4 separate regions of the Homo sapiens genome follow, and regions 2, 3 and 4 are each linked to region 1. Evidence: fine-mapped expression QTL. A gene starts in region 1. Each other region holds a variant in brackets. All regions are shown on one strand. Distances are from middle to middle.

Region 1 (4,172 bases):
GGAACTGAGTATCCAGTAAACAATAAAAGTACACATGGGCCCCCTCTTCCTGGAGCTTCCTCTCTAAATAGAAGACATATATTAAATGAATCACATTCAAATAAATATTTAAACAACATTTGAAAAGTCTATGAAGACGAAATATAATGAAAAAGACAGAGTGGGTGTAATTTTGTTGGTGATGGGGTTAGATCATAAAGGCTTCAGTGAGACCTAAATGATGAGTAGAAGGGGAAGAAGAGCTCCAAGTGGAGGGCAATGTGCAAAGGTAGAGAAGTGGATGGAGGATGAGAAGATTACCTTGTGGTTGGAACATAATGAGTCAGGGCAAGAGTGGCGGAGAAGCGGAGTAGAGCAGGTTATTCAGCGGTTACTAGGGAGTTTGTATTATATTCTGACTGCAATGGACCATTGAAGGATTTATACCATGGGTACCTGGGTGTGTGGATGTATCGTTGTATGGCATGAGCCAGTTAATACTTTCTAAAGCTCAATCTGGTATGGATATGAGGTAAGAATAGAAGCTAGAATACCAGTAGCTTGGACCATGGTGGATGCAGCAAAATGGAGAAATGAATGATTCAAAATCTATTTAGGAGGTTGACTTCTGAGAGTTTGGGCATAGATTAAATGAGGCAATAAGGATAAAGGAGTCAAAGATGATTCTAAGGTTTCCATTTAACTTTCTAGTGTCTGTTAATATTTGATTCAAGAAAAATGTATCTGTCTTTTAGTAATTTCCAGGTTCTGGAAGGTAATCTGATGGTTTGTTCAGAGAAGCCTTCTCAACCACGCAAGGTACCCATACCCTAGTTATTCTGTCCTATTTTTCTTTTATCTTACAAGCAGGCATCACATTTTCTTACTTGCTTATTTTGAGTATAATCTCCATGACAGTGATGTGTATTCTTGAAGACTATATCCGGAGAACCTAGCACAGTGTCTGTGTCTGGCATATTGAAAATGCTCAATAAACATATTCGTTGAATAAAACGATGAATGGACTAATGAAAAAATAATAAGGGAGAAATACTTGACTCCAAGGTGTCACTACCTAGCCAAGTGCATGAAGGAGTGCCGCAAATGTCCTAACGGAAGTAGAAAGTGTTATGGTAGAAGAGAGGTGGGATGCATCTAACAGGGGTGGGGGGGGGGCGGGGAGAAAAGGAGAGAGGTCTGGAGTACACATATCCTCAAAAAACGAGGTGAATGTTTTCTGGATTGGGACCAACTCTACAGGAAATCTCTCCCTTCTCCTCAGCAAGCTCTAGAGCAAAAACGAAGAGCAACTTTTCAAAAGAGTTTCACGTTTTAGAATAAAAAATATTTAAAAAAATAACCATTAAAATGAGACTTTCCTGCAAAAAGACAACCTTGATTATGTACCACCTGCAGCACTTCCTGTATGCTGCTGCGGGCTGTGGATGTTTTTGCTCGCCTCCCTCCCCTCCCCGCTGGGGCTGTGAACTCTCAGAAGACCGGTGCTTTGGTATCCTCCACTGCAGCTCAAACCCCGCCCACCTACTTGGTGGATGGATGGAGGAACATCTACTATTTCATCCTTGAGGAGTTCCTGAAAATGCAGTTGCCCCTCAAACAATGTATCTACATCTCGCGGGGTTTCTGTGGAAGAAAAGAAAAAGTGCAAGTTGTTGCTTGGAGCGCGGACTGCTTTTACCTTTGCCTGGGGATCCCTCCTATCTGGCCCCGCCTGCCTAGCTCTGTTTTTAGCAGTTTAGAGATTAAAGGCCAGTCCCCAGAGCGGGTGCTCTACTCCCTCCCTCCCTTCTGCTTGCAGGCTGGGGCGCGGAGCGGGCTGAACTGGGAAGGCCGGGCTGCGGCTGCCGTGCCTGGCGCGGGAGCCGCAGGACCGAGAGCGCAGCCCCGCCCCGGGGGCGTTGCCGCCCCGCGCCCGCTCCGCCCCCGCGCCGCCGGCCCTAGTCTGCCTGTTTTCGACTCGCGCTCCGGCTGCTGTCACTTGGCTCTCTGGCTGGAGCTTGAGGACGCAAGGAGGGTTTGTCACTGGCAGACTCGAGACTGTAGGCACTGCCATGGCCCCTGTGCTCAGTAAGGACTCGGCGGACATCGAGGTACGGACTTCGCGCCGGCTCGTCGGTGGTGGCGGGGTGGTGGGGAGTGCTCTGCGGGTAGGTGCCGGGGAGGCCCCCGCGGCCCCCGCACCCCGGAGAGTGAGAGACGCGGGAAAGTTTCCCCCGTGGGAGCTCTGCGGGGGAGCGGAGGAGCGCGGAGCCACAGGCCCGCGTGGGCAGGCGGGGAGCTCAGGGGAGGACTTTCCGCTACTGGAGGGGTTGCCCTTTGCGTCGGGACCTGTTTACTTCGGAAGAGATTTCAGGAAGCCTGTCTTGTCCTCCTCTGAATGTCAGTGACTGAAGAAGCACTGGAGTTCCAGAGAGGTGGACTCTAGGGGGTAGGAGTGCCCATTTCCCACACGTTCTACCCCTTCACCTCCTGTATGTCGTTTCTGGACACCTCCACTGCCCCCATTTCCAATAGCTGAATCCTGCTATTTGCAAAGGTGAAGCATAGAAATAAAACATCTGTGTGTCAGCTGTAGCAGTCGCCTCTAGTCATAGTATTGTTTATGAAATAATTTAACATGGAGAGAATGGAACGAAGTATTCAGAACATGAAAAATGCAGTGCCCTCAGAAAAACTAACTGTATTTTTCTCTCCTCTCAACGGTTTTTGATTCCCTCTTGCACTCCGTTTCTGTTAAAAAAAATCTTTTTTTATGTAAATAAGGTCCTACCTGAAACGACATGGCATTTCCTTTCTCTCTAGTATCTTAATATATGCGATGAAAAGGATTTAATTATCAACAGTGATTTTACACATACTAAACCTAGGTCAGCACTTTTGAGCTAAGACAAACTGATTTTTAGTTTTCTGTTTTGTTTGGGGCTTTTCTTTATTTGAGTCTTCTACTCTGGTAGAAAATTATGTGTGTGTGTGTTTTCTTTAGAAATAACAAAATTTTCCTTTCGTCAGTCCTTTTGGCGGCTTAAGTAAAAGTTTTGCAAACCACCTGTTTGCAAAATAGCTGCTTTTGCCACATTTTGCCTCCGTAATTGAAGAAACTTTATATTCTGGGAGGAAGTAGTCCTGTTTTCTCCAGGCTCCATAACTTGGTTTGAAAAATCATTTTAGTAACAAGAGCCAAAGTGTATTATGTGGACATCTCTGGTTAGTTTACTTTTGGTTTCTGTTTTGGAGAGTTGACTTTTTGATATTGAGCAATATGATATATTTAACAAATAGTTGTTCATCTGTGTGCAGGATAATAGATACTTGTCTTTTTCTATATTTCATTTAGGGTAGTCTATTCCTTTTTGGTCCTTGTGACTTTGACTTAACTTTTTAAAAAATTTTATTTACTAAGTCGAAAAACAAGCTTCTGACAGTATTAAGGCAGTATTGATTTAAGATATCGGAGTTGACTTAGGATGGGTGGCTTTTGGCTCTTTAATTTCAGAATGGTGTGTTATCTGCTTAACTGATTTCTTTCTCTGCAGTTGTCTTCGAAATCAGTTCTTACATTCTACTGAGGAGAAAGATGCCAGTGAAACATTGAATGCCAAGCTTGATTTCATATATTGTTTCAACTAAGAACATTTAAGAAGCCCATCCTTCCCACTCCCTCCACTCAATTCAACCTTAGTCTATATGGCCAGTTTGCCTAATATTACTTTTAATCTAGATTGCTGGTGTTCAAACACCTTCAGCTCTTATGTAGTTCATATGTGCAACACTTTAATCAGTAACATCTTTCATCACTCACAGCACCTTACTTTTCCCTCAAAGTAATACCCGTGATTCATGAGCTAGAATACCATGAAAGAGCATGAAATTAATCATTAAAATATAATGCAGTGAGGAAAAATACATTAAGCTTAGGGGAGCACATTCAAGCATAAATGCCTCAGTTGATCCTATTGATTTACCAAAGTTCATTTTTGTGTTGAAGAATTAGAATGAATTATAAAGGCTCAGTTTTCCATCAAATTTGAATGCTTTTCTTGAACAAATTCATTACAACCATTGTCTAGAGATCTGATTGTGATCATTGTTTTAGCTTCAAATACATGGATAAGCAAGTAATATTTTAAAAATATTGGTATGAAGCAGTTAATGAATGTGATAAGAACACATTG
Region 2 (4,172 bases), 51 kb after region 1:
TTGCATATGGATGGATTCTTTTTCTGTGATTTTTTTTTTTTTTTGCCTGTATTTCTCCCTTCTCCAAAAAGCCTCAACATGATGCCTTGGTCTTGGAGAATTTTTATCATAGGATAGAGGTTTGTATTGTCGTGGGGAATTCCACTCTGGCCGAAGCTCTCTTGTGTGAGCTCCTGCAGGGCTACTAACTGCTAACCTGAAATGTGTTCCCTCTCTTAGAATGGCCCAAGAGTGAAATATTTATTCTCCGTGTCTGACAAGGAAATTTCTCTTGGGAGAAGAAGTTGTTCTTATAGACTACGTATTAGTCCAAGAATATTGAGAAGGGATCCAAAAGATCTGGAACCAAATAGATTGAATTTGTTTACACAGAAAATCTTTGCATAATCATAAATATTAAACTGGAATTGTATGATGTATTATAGGTCAATAAGTAGTATATAATAAAGCAGATGTGTGTTAAGACTATTTCTATGAAAACAAAATATGTATATTTTAAAAGATATTAATGAAGCATATTACTGTATTTGCAAATAAGAAACATCTTTGCATATGGGAAAATACAGTGCTCTGAACAAAAGAAATCAGCAAAATTGTCTTTAGAGTCTAATGGTATATTTTACCTTTGCAAAACATTTATTTGGTGCTCATAGCAAATAAATATGTGAGTTTTGCTGTTTTCCCGAATGGGCATACAATGGCAGCTGTCTTTCTAATCGTTCCCCTATTCAAACACTAATCGGTGGAACCCACGTAAAATGCTAGAGGCCTGAATAGGTAGACAATGGCAGCAGCGTTTTTAATCACAGTCCTATTCATGCACTAATCGGAGTGATGATTAAAGGACATTAGAGGGAGCACTTTGACATCTGATCCTTTGAACTGACGTCTGTGCAGGCTGCACTCCATAGAGCTCACTTGGCCAAACTGATTTCCTTAAATAAAGTGCTGTGATTTCCAATGTAGGAAATATTACATTAGAGCCTATTGAAATGATTAGGAATTGAGGAGCTTTTCTTTAGGTGGGAATGTGGTGTATGCTGTATACTCACAAAAGTGAGATCATTAATATTGCATGTACTACTTTGAATATCAGGGACCACAGAGAAATAGCATGAGAAACGCCTTCCTGCAGTCATGCACTTAAAATGAATATGAACAAAAATGTGGAACTCTGCTGTCATAGCTCTCCGTTATTGAAGTTTATGAATTTTGAAATATTTGTATTTTTATATAACACGATAAAGATCCACACATCCTAACTGCATTTCATATTTTTGTTTTCATTAAGCCAGGATATTTTTAATGTTACCTATCTTGAAGTTGCTTTAATTACAAAAAAAATGTGTTATACCCTATTTGCATGGTCATGCTTTGATTCAGTAGTCATTAGTGAGACAGAATGGAATATTTTATTTTCTCTTTTCTTTCAAATTTCTAATATCTATTTAGATTTTACTAACCTATTCCCCAGAATATTTCATGTGATTTATCCTAAAAATGTTAATATCTATTCAGCATTTGCAAATTGAATCAGTAGTTAAAATTCCAACATCAATATTTGAATATGGAGCTCCAAATATCAATAACTGTATATACTACATTTATGTGTAATGTATGTAGGGGAAGAAAAACCTTTTCCTTTAACCTCTTATGTTCAGTGGCTGGGGCATGTGAATTAATCTGACAGAAGACAGATTGACAGGAAAACATGCATACACATTGTATTTGATGTTCATATTTTAATTTATATGTGCACAAGACCTTCACATGAAAGAAATGAAGACAGAAAGAAGGAGTTAAACCCAGGGGCTTACATACCATTTTAATAAAGGGAGATAAATCGTGCAGAAGTGATAACACAAAGGAAAAGGGGTTTGGGATTCTAGGGGTGATAAATTGTGGGAAGATAAATATATGAGGGATACCAATGGAAGATAAGGGCTATTTTAGCAAGGTTTGTTTGTGCAAATCCATCTTGGTGCCA[A/G]CTTTCTGTATCCAGTGATAAAGGATTGTTCTCCTCCTGGTATGGAAGAAGGGAGGGGAACACCTTCACAAAAGGAAATTTATGTCTGCTTTTAGGCAGATAGGGAGAGAGCAAAGAGCAAAGAGCTCTTTCTGCAGTTTGTTGTTTCTTAAGTGCTTTCAGCTCAAAATGGTCCTTATACCAAGGTGACATATTTTGCGGTGACATTCTGACCCCCTCACATACAGCCTCTTTGGATTGTTTCCTTTGTTTATTATATTTCTTATTTATAGGATTCTTTCCTAGAAGATAGGAATATTTATCACAAATTCTGGATAAATTTGACTGTGATGTATACTTCTGAAGGTACCTACCACACAAATCCACAAGTTTATTGGCATAGACCCTTGAAGCTTTCTTTGTACCACCTAACTCTGGCCCTCATTCTGGCCACTTGAATCTGATGGAGAGAACTGACCGAGGCTGGGGAAATCAGATTCTCTCCTAGATATCTATGACAAGAGATTCTTTTTCATTCTGGGCTGTTTGAGCAGGAATAAAATGAAAGCTTGGTGCTGCAGGGTGGCCATTTTCCACTTGCAACATGTACTGAAAATCAGAAAAGGCCAGGCTGAGGAGAGAGAAGATAGAGGCAGTCATAGAAAAAGAAGCTGCGCAGGTTTCTCATGGCTTTGTGTAGGGAGAGTTTTGCAACTTTGTGTTTTGTGAGATACTCTTGGATAGACTCTTTTTATTGGCTTAAACTATGTAAATCATGTTTGAGATATAGACAACCAAAAAATCCTAAGGAGCACAGTGGTATATGTCAAGTTTTAATGACCTAGATAGAGGTGTTTTATTTTTATGGGATATGTTAAAATTACGATTAAGTTGTGTGAGGCAGTAGGGTATAATATAATCAGCTCTGACTCAGAGACACATGCCCAAACTGAAATCGTCTCTACATTTACTAACTTGATCTTGGGTGTGATTCTTCACCTTAACTAGCTAGCTCTAGTTTCTTTCACTGTTAAATAGAAATCTTGATAATTATGGTAATCTAACTACATTATTTTGAGAGTTAAATGAACTGAGGAATTTTAAAAGGGTATAATACAAAGTTTAGCACATGGTAAATGCTCACTAAGTAGTACTTTTTATTATTAATATTTTAGTTTTACCTAAATATTGGTAATGACTGGTAATTGGTAATTCAGATGATTAATCATTTAGCTTTGATTTCTTCGAATAATATTTTATCTTTTAGTAATAAATTACAGATATCATTTGAAGTCTTTTGTGATAGTTCTTGTTATCAAGATAGTATGTTATCAAGAGTGTATGTGAGAACCCTTCCTTTATGGCCTACTGTGGCCCCATTTGTCAAGGTATTTAATGCCGTTGACTCCATTTAGATTCTGACAACTTTTACACTTTTTGTTTCTCTTCTTCAATTGTTTTCTTCAAAGATTTATGGTTTTCATGATATAAATAGTTTAACTCCTTGGAAACATTTGTTCTTAATTATATATTTTTTAGCTACTTGTAAATGGGATTGTTTTCTTGATTTCTTTTTTTTTTGGGTGGTTTATTGTTAATGTGTAGATATGTTACTGAATTTAGTATGTTGATTTTGTATTTTGTAAATTTACAGAATTTGTTTATTAGTTTGAACTATTTTTGGTGTTGGCTTTCGGGTTTTCTATACATAAGACCATGTCACCTGCAAACACACAACTGAACCTTTTCCTTTACGTTTTGGATGCCTTTTATTTCTTTCTCTTGCCTAATTGCTCTGGCTAAGACTTTCAGTACTATGTAAAATAGAAATGGTAAAAGTGGGTATCCTTGTCTCGTTCCTGATCTTAGAGGAAAAGCTTTCAGCTCTTCACCATTGAATATGATGTTCGTTGTGAGCTTGTGATACATGGCTTTTATTGTGTTCACGTACATTTTTTCTACACCTAATGATTACAGTATTTGTATAATGAAAGGATATTCAGTTTTGTCCAATGTTTTTTCCTGCATCAATTGAGATGATCCTATGGTTTTTGTCCTTTATTCTATTAATGTGGTATATCACACTTATTGATTTGTGTATGTTGAACCATCCTTGCATCCTGGGGGTAAATAATGCTTGATTATGGTGAATGGTCCTTTTAATGTGCTGTTGAGTTTGGTTTGTTAGTGTTTTGTTGAGTAGTTA
Region 3 (4,172 bases), 360 kb after region 1:
TCAAAGAGGCGCTCTCTGACCCTCCATAATTGCTATGATCTAAAGCACCCCTTCTGCTTCTCACATCCCTCATCTTGTACTAGTCTCTTTCATGTAACCCTATTCATAACCATTTTCACTATCATATAGTTCACTTACTTATTTACTTTTCATTTTTTATCTTCTGCCAGATGAAATTTACAACACACAAGGATGGGTCTCTTATCTGTGGTTTACTACGGTGCCTGCAGCAGGATGTAATACATGAGAGACCAAAAACAATTTTTTTTTTTTTTTTTTGCTAATTGAATGAATGAAGGCAAGGTAATGCCTTGCTTTTTTTCCTATTAAAAATTATGAAACACCTGGGAAGAATAGCTTGTGTACACTGTCTTATGTCTTTGCCAGATACTTTGTCCATAACTTCAGAATTCTGTTTTTTGCCTTTACTATTTAACTGCAAGTGTCACCTTTTTACGGTTCATTGACCTCCACGTCATCAATCTATTTACCTACATTATATTTCTTTTGTATTTAATACTTGTTGAATTTACCTCTTTACTTGGCTTTTGTGGCTTAGAAATATTTTGATTCTCACGTAACTCTGAGGAATTATTCTCTAGCTTTAGTTCAGGTTATGCTTGCTGACACTTTAAAAATAAGTGGATGATTCTATTGTCACCTGTTTTTGCACTCTTTCTTTGGAAACTTTACCCAGCCTTGTGATTTATTTGATCCCAAGTTGCAGTGCCTTCATCTGAGGTCTAGGTGTGTATCTCCAAATGCTTCTGTGGATTTTTCAGGCATTTTCCAACTACATATGTAGTTAATTTCTAGTGAGGTTTAAATCCTAAGGGTGTGACCTTGGTAACTTATCTCAATCTCACATTCCTCAACTATAAAATTGAGTTATACCTATTTTGTGAGGATCCAAAGAGATAGTATATACAGTGCCTAGCCTAGAGCCAGCTACATGCTGATGAAAGCGCTCAATAAATGTTTTCCATTATTATAGTTTTATCCCCATTAGATATAGCCTTTGCCAATGTTGATATTTTTTGAGTGCATGATAATACAGCTAGTTCTCTATATAAAGAAACTATACTTTTGAATTGCACATTTACTTATGTACTAAAATTGTTTAAACAAAATTCTACTGTGTGTTTTAAGTTTGCATTGAAGTGTGCCTACTGACGATTGACAAGGAAAAAAAAAAGCCGTAAGATGGATATCAAAAAATAACATTAATGAGCTGCTAAAGCTAAAATTACAGGAACTTATGAAATTGGTTAAACATAAAAACCATTAAACTGTTTACTGAAGCTTCACAGATATACTGCAGCTAATGAGCATTTCTGCTATTTAAATAAGCCCAAATTGAACACACATTACATGGATACATAATTAGTCATGGCAGTCAGACACACATAGACTTACTTTTAAAGCTCTATTTAGGGAATCTTTTCCATTTGATTTATTTTGTTAATTAAAATATTTTTCAGTGTTCACTTATATTTTAATAATATTGTTTTCACAAGTAGTATAATTTACTACTGGTTTCCTATTTGTTTTTATTTTTCCGTTAAATGCAGCAAATGGGAATTTTATATGAAACATTTTTCTTAACCCCTTTCAGTAATTGTTTATATCATTTGATGACATAATTGAGCATTTAAAAAATTTTGTTTGCTGAGAAGTATACAAAAAATATTTCAATACGCTATTTTTTCACTATCTCATAATTATCAAGAAATATTAAGCACCCAAATGTGCATAGAATTATAATGATTATGGTCCAAACCAGATTAAAGGATGATCTATTCCTTCAAGCAGTTTGCAGTCTTAAAGAGATGGTATCATTGAATATAAATAAGCAAATCAAAGTACAGCATTTGGGAATCCAACAGAGAATTTGAAAACAATTCCCATATATTTACTTCAAGGACACTGACCTCCTGGAGGAGATCTCTTCCAGGTAAAATGAAATCCAATGTTCAAGGAGTTCAGCGTCTTAAATAGATAGAATTATTTCAGAGACATAAGCAGATCAAGGTGAAGTGCTTGGACTATTTTAATTCTGAATTGGTTTGTTGGTCAGTTTAGGAAGTGGAAATGAAACTTCCAATAGAATACAAATAACACAAAAGGAGTTGCTATAGGCTATTATTGACATCCATCGTTTCCATTCAACTTGGGGAGCCTAAGTTTATCCTGAATAGGGTGAGGGAGAAGATCAGATCTGTATTTTACCCTGACTGAATTCTACTAGCATATTCAAACTGAAAATTATCTAACCATAGCAGTAGGAAAATCAGATATTTAAATTGATCAAAAGAAATTCACTATGTGCCCATTCTTCCCTAGTCAGTATGTTTGTCAGTGTAGAAATACTTTTTCTCCACATGATGAACTGACT[A/CTCTA]ATTGTGAAAATAAGATCTACAAGAAAAATAACTAAGACAGAATAATATGAATGCTAAATAAATGGAATGGACAAATACTACATTTTTTGACCAAAAAACATATACTAGATTCCCCTTATATGCCAATTATATGCTAGATGCTGGGGGGAAGTAGCTGACTTAAATAAGTTATCTGAACTTAGGAGTAGTAGAGGTAAAACAAATACTTGAAATAAAGTCACATAGTGCCTAGCGTAACAGAAAGTCGTTAGTGGTTAATTCACTAGAAAGGGGGGGAAAAAGGTTTCATTGGAAAGGATGCTCTCAAGGCTGAATCTGTGAAGCTAGCCAAGACTAGAATTCTTTGCTGTTCCTGTCTTCACTTTAGTTATTCCCATGATCCCCAATGCTGAATTTTATGAGACTGTGGAGAGTCTATTTATTCTGGCTTTCTCTTGCCCCCACACCCAAAGTCAGAAGCAGCAGGACTTTGGAGATGAAATAATTGGATTCAAATACTGCCTCTGCCACCTCTTGGCTTTATTGAGGATGATAATATCCACCTTCAAGGGTTCTTTTGTGATCTAATAAGATATTCTATGGAAATATCCAGCAGTATGCCTGCCATGTACTAGAGATCCATAAGTGCTGATTGATTATTTTTTCTAACATTCTTCTTTAGTTGACAGTGATGTTAATGGAATGTAAGAAGTAACTAGGATAAAATTTTCATTGGATGGATTGGCACAACATGTTAACTGACTGGATGTTGATATATTTGGAAACAAGATTCATGGATTATACTAAGATTTGTAAGCTCTATTTTTAGTTTTGAAGAAGGGAATGGGACCAGATGCGATGGCTCATGCCTGTAATTCCAGCACTTTGGGAGGCCGAGGCTGGTAAATCACTTGAGGTCAGGAGTTTGAGACCAGCCTGGCCAACCTGCTGAAACCCCATCCCTACTAAAAATACAAAAATTAGCTGTGCGTGGTGACAAGCGCCTGTAATCCCAGCTACTTGGGAGGCTGAAGCACGAGAATCACTTGATCACTTGAACCTAGTAGGTGGAGGTTACAGTGAGCGGAGGTCATGCCACTGCACTCCAGACTGGGCGGCAGAGTGAGACTCCTCAAAAAAAAAAAAAAAAAAAAGAAAAGAAAAAGGGAATAGAAAATTTTCGCAACCTACTCATCTGACAAAGGGCTAATATCCAGAATCTACAATGAACTCAAACAAATTTACAAGAAAAAAACAAACAGCCCCATCAAAAAGTGGGCGAAGGACATGAACAGACACTTCTCAAAAGAAGACATTTATGCAGCCAAAAAACACATGAAAAAATGCTCATCATCACTGGCCATCAGAGAAATGCAAATCAAAACCACAATGAGATACCACCTCACACCAGTTAGAATGGCAATCATTAAAAAGTCAGGAAACAACAGGTGCTGGAGAGGATGTGGAGAAATAGGAACACTTTTACACTGTTGGTGGGACTGTAAACTAGTTCAACCATTGTGGAAGTCAGTGTGGCAATTCCTCAGGGATCTAGAACTGGAAATACCATTTGACCCAGCCATCCCATTACTGGGTATATACCCAAAGGACTATAAATCATGCTGCTATAAAGACACATGCACATGTATGTTTATTGCGACATTATTCACAATAGCAAAGACTTGGAACCAACCCAAATGTCCAACAATGATAGACTGGATTAAGAAAATGTGGCACATATACACCATGGAATACTATGCAGCCATAAAAAATGATGAGTTCATGTCTTTTGTAGGG
Region 4 (4,172 bases), 840 kb after region 1:
CATTTTAAAAGACTTAGAAAGTTCTTTGATTCTTCTGTCTCAGAAGATAAAAATAGAAAGCCAAAATTTTTAATTGAACATAAAGTTTTATATCTTTGCAGATTTTCAAAGTATATTTCTAAGCATTAGTCTTAATTTTTATCAGTTACTTCATTGAGTTTCCATTTATATAAAAGGGTACCTAAGGAAGATAAATCGTTTTTACTCATCCAAACAGCACCTTAAAATGTTGTTTTACAAAACATAGCACCAATTTGTGTGGACAGATATTCTCATGACTTGCTATAGCTATAGTTCTTGTTCAAATATATGTTTATTTCCTTACAGATCAGACTTTTTAAAAATATTAAGCAACTATCATGATTTACTCTGAAAATATTATTTTCATTTATATGTGCATAAAAGAGAAAAAATATAGTTGCATGCAGCTTCATTTGGAGGGGGGAATTTTTTAAACAACTATATATATATATACACACATATATAATTGAATTATAACATTGGTATGAGACAGGAAAAAAATCAAAATAATGCAATTCCTTGAAAATGTAAGATTTGTAGACCTGGCCTCAAGGGGTACCATGGGGGTGGAGAGACACTTATTGTCCCTTGTAATTTCCTCAGCCCCGACTTAGTCACTTCAAAGTAGTACACAGTCTGAGTAAAACTCTTGTATTTTTTTTGCAAGTGAGACTGCCAGGCAAGTTTCCTAAATCCCCTCTGACACCATGATCCACCCCTACGTAGCTGCCCTGAAATCCCTCCTAGATAGAAATCCTGTAACTTCCGCTGAGGTCTTACATGTCATTTTTCATCATTGAAATGTTTCTCTTTAATGGGAAAATAATCATCATATCTTTTTTTAAAAAAAACTCGGTCCTGAATTTCATACTAGGTATTCTTAATTGCTTATTCTACATTGCTTCATGGAAAGAAAAAGAGAGGAAGGGAGGGAGGAAGGGAGGGAGGGAATAGAGGAAGACGGGGGAAGGAAAATTGTAAAATTTCTCAAAATCCTAAGCCGTTTCAGAGCTGGAGGCCTGGCTGTGGTAATCTGGGCTCAATAGTGTCAGGGCCAGGACTGGACATCAGTTTTCCTGGCTCTCCATTCAGTGTTTTTCCCCTTCGTGGTGGACAATGACTAGAGTCAGCTTGGAAATCTTCAAAACTCAAAGCTGACTGTTAAGCTAATTTTTTTCTTCTGCTTTCTTCTAAAAACTACATGCATTATTTGAAATCCAAACAAATGTATTCATTGCCTCAGAATCTGACAGTAACACTTTTCCACTGTCAAGAACAAAGAGTGTGAAGAGGAAAAGGAGGACGTGTGAAAGTCCCCCAAAATCCACAGGTAGAAGACGCCCCATCCTGGTAGAACTGGAAAGACCCGAACTCTGCTCAGAACAAAGAAAACTAGAGAGTGACTATGTTATGACATATTTTCCTCACACAATGAAGAAAAATACCCCTAAGGAATTTTAAACATTGTGTTTTTAATTTAAAAGGATTTCTTTTCTCGCTCTTTTTTTCCTCCTCTGTCAGCTCAACTGTTGCTATAGTTGCACCATAGAGCTGGACGTAGTTGTCTCATAGTGTGGCTCCTCTGCAGCAGAGAAAAATGTTAACGCTAAAATGGGGACATTGTTGACCTTTGTGGTCAGTGACATCAATACCCTCTATTTCTGTTTGCAGGCTATACAGTTTGATCCAGAAACCCACCTGCCCACCATAACCGACACTTGTACAGGCTGTACTCTGTGTCTCAGTGTTTGCCCTATTGTCGACTGCATCAAAATGGTTTCCAGGACAACACCTTATGAACCAAAGAGAGGCGTACCCTTATCTGTGAATCCGGTGTGTTAAGGTGATTTGTGAAACAGTTGCTGTGAACTTTCATGTCACCTACATATGCTGATCTTTTAAAATCATGATCCTTGTGTTCAGCTCTTTCCAAATTAAAACAAATATACATTTTCTAAATAAAAATATGTAATTTCAAAATACATTTGTAAGTGTAAAAAATGTCTCATGTCAATGACCATTCAATTAGTGGTCATAAAATAGAATAATTCTTTTCTGAGGATAGTAGTTAAATAACTGTGTGGCAGTTAATTGGATGTTCACTGCCAGTTGTCTTATGTGAAAAATTAACTTTTTTGTGGCAATTAGTGTGACAGTTTCCAAATTGCCCTATGCTGTGCTCCATATTTGATTTCTAATTGTAAGTGAAATTAAGCATTTTGAAACAAAGTACTCTTTAACATACAAGAAAATGTATCCAAGGAAACATTTTATCATTAAAAATTACCTTTAATTTTAATGCTGTTTCTAAGAAAATGTAGTTAGCTCCATAAAGTACAAATGAAGAAAGTCAAAAAATTATTTGCTATGGCAGGATAAGAAAGCCTAAAATTGAGTTTGTAGAACTTTATTAAGTAAAATCCCCTTCGCTGAAATTGCTTATTTTTGGTGTTGGATAGAGGATAGGGAGAATATTTACTAACTAAATACCATTCACTACTCATGCGTGAGATGGGTGTACAAACTCATCCTCTTTTAATGGCATTTCTCTTTAAACTATGTTCCTAACAAAATGAGATGATAGGATAGATCCTGGTTACCACTCTTTT[G/A]CTGTGCACATACGGGCTCTGACTGGTTTTAATAGTCACCTTCATGATTATAGCAACTAATGTTTGAACAAAGCTCAAAGTATGCAATGCTTCATTATTCAAGAATGAAAAATATAATGTTGATAATATATATTAAGTGTGCCAAATCAGTTTGACTACTCTCTGTTTTAGTGTTTATGTTTAAAAGAAATATATTTTTTGTTATTATTAGATAATATTTTTGTATTTCTCTATTTTCATAATCAGTAAATAGTGTCATATAAACTCATTTATCTCCTCTTCATGGCATCTTCAATATGAATCTATAAGTAGTAAATCAGAAAGTAACAATCTATGGCTTATTTCTATGACAAATTCAAGAGCTAGAAAAATAAAATGTTTCATTATGCACTTTTAGAAATGCATATTTGCCACAAAACCTGTATTACTGAATAATATCAAATAAAATATCATAAAGCATTTTAAATATGGTCTTTTGCTGCCTCATTTGCAAATATAATTTCATATAAACAATTTAGATTTTGAGATAGAGCAGTTTTTGGTTAGTCCTATAGAGCATTCCATCCAGATATAAAACTCATGTTAGTTTAAGTAAAATAAGGGTGATAATAGTGCAGTCACTCAAATGTTTCACTTCCTGTCCTTCTTACCCATCTTTACCTACTGAATTAGATTCTATTCTGCCAAAAGGCATCTTTTACTGGGAACAGGCCAGGATTCTTGCAATGGCCCATGGGCAGGGACAAATGGAAAGTGGCAGCCTGCCTGCCTGTCTGAAAGTGCCAGTCTCACTGTAGGAAGTACACACCTCACTTAATATTACTGCTTAGATAGTTATGTGATATTATTGACTCATATAAATTGACTCTCTTTGCACTCTTGTCGTGGTGAGGGATTTTAACTTTTGGAGTTGGTAACACTTAGAAAACAGTTCCAGTAATCTAGAAAAGAGATTTACCAGGGCTACGTGGATGCCATCATAATGTCTTACCCCCTACCTGAATCTGATGAGAGTTTTTCACTCTGGGAGTTCTGGGAGTTTAGTAGCCTTCTGGGAATATTATAAAAGATATCCCATGTATGTACACACCTGAGTCCTCTTCAAGATACTGAATGCCAAATGCCAGGCAGAAATTTCCTTGATCGAGATTAAAGAAATAATCATGACCTTTGCATTTTTTTCTGAGAAAGAGAGGGCAAAATACTTTAACTGTTTCTGTAACTACTGTGGAGAACTACAAGTGACCAGGGTTAGGCCATGGCAATCCATGATTTTATACTAGTTTCTTCCTTACACACATTTCTTTCTGTTGTATTCACTTTCTATTTCATACCAAGAAGTCTTTCTTATCCATGTTGTGTGTAGAAAACATAACTCAATTTTACATATGTTATTTACAGAGAGACTCAGAATAAGGAAGAATGAAAACCACATTATTCCCATCCAGCAACACACCAGGAGCCATTGACCCTAACACACACATTCTCATGGCACCTTACCTCCAGACATGATTGGGGACATAAGACCGGACCAGAGAGTGT

Direction of the effects. Positions count from the first base shown, and alleles are read on the strand shown. Sizes are in standard deviations (SD) of each study's normalised expression. Not every link is listed here.
For the expression in esophagus muscle of the gene that starts at base 1,940 in region 1, allele A in region 3 goes with a higher level than allele CTCTA (moderate effect, 0.43 SD a copy in GTEx).

Evidence for each region. PIP is the estimated chance that this variant, and not a neighbour inherited with it, causes the effect. A credible set is the group of variants that fine-mapping cannot tell apart.
Region 2: its variant is the best candidate, but not a certain one, in a credible set for the expression of DPYD in whole blood (INTERVAL, PIP 0.87).
Region 3: its variant is the best candidate, but not a certain one, in a credible set for the expression of DPYD in esophagus muscle (GTEx, PIP 0.59).
Region 4: its variant is the best candidate, but not a certain one, in a credible set for the expression of DPYD in whole blood (TOPMed, PIP 0.61).

The regions. Positions count from the first base shown.
Region 1 is chr1:97,918,802-97,922,973 of GRCh38, reverse strand. DPYD (dihydropyrimidine dehydrogenase) reads left to right here and starts at 1,940. Exons shown (of 23, transcript NM_000110.4): 1 at 1,940-2,090. The coding sequence starts at 2,052. RefSeq lists a silencer at 1,735-2,134.
Region 2 is chr1:97,867,462-97,871,633 of GRCh38, reverse strand. The region is part of intron 2 of DPYD (dihydropyrimidine dehydrogenase); the gene reads left to right. Among named protein-coding and RNA genes, the nearest start is that of DPYD, 51 kb to the left of the region's middle. The variant A/G (reference allele first, on the strand shown) is at 1,988.
Region 3 is chr1:97,556,666-97,560,837 of GRCh38, reverse strand. The region is part of intron 11 of DPYD (dihydropyrimidine dehydrogenase); the gene reads left to right. Among named protein-coding and RNA genes, the nearest start is that of DPYD-AS2, 240 kb to the left of the region's middle. The variant A/CTCTA (reference allele first, on the strand shown) is at 2,396.
Region 4 is chr1:97,076,667-97,080,838 of GRCh38, reverse strand. It overlaps DPYD (dihydropyrimidine dehydrogenase), which reads left to right. Exons shown (of 23, transcript NM_000110.4): 23 at 1,693-3,096. The coding sequence ends at 1,863. Among named protein-coding and RNA genes, the nearest start is that of DPYD-AS1, 17 kb to the left of the region's middle. The variant G/A (reference allele first, on the strand shown) is at 2,631.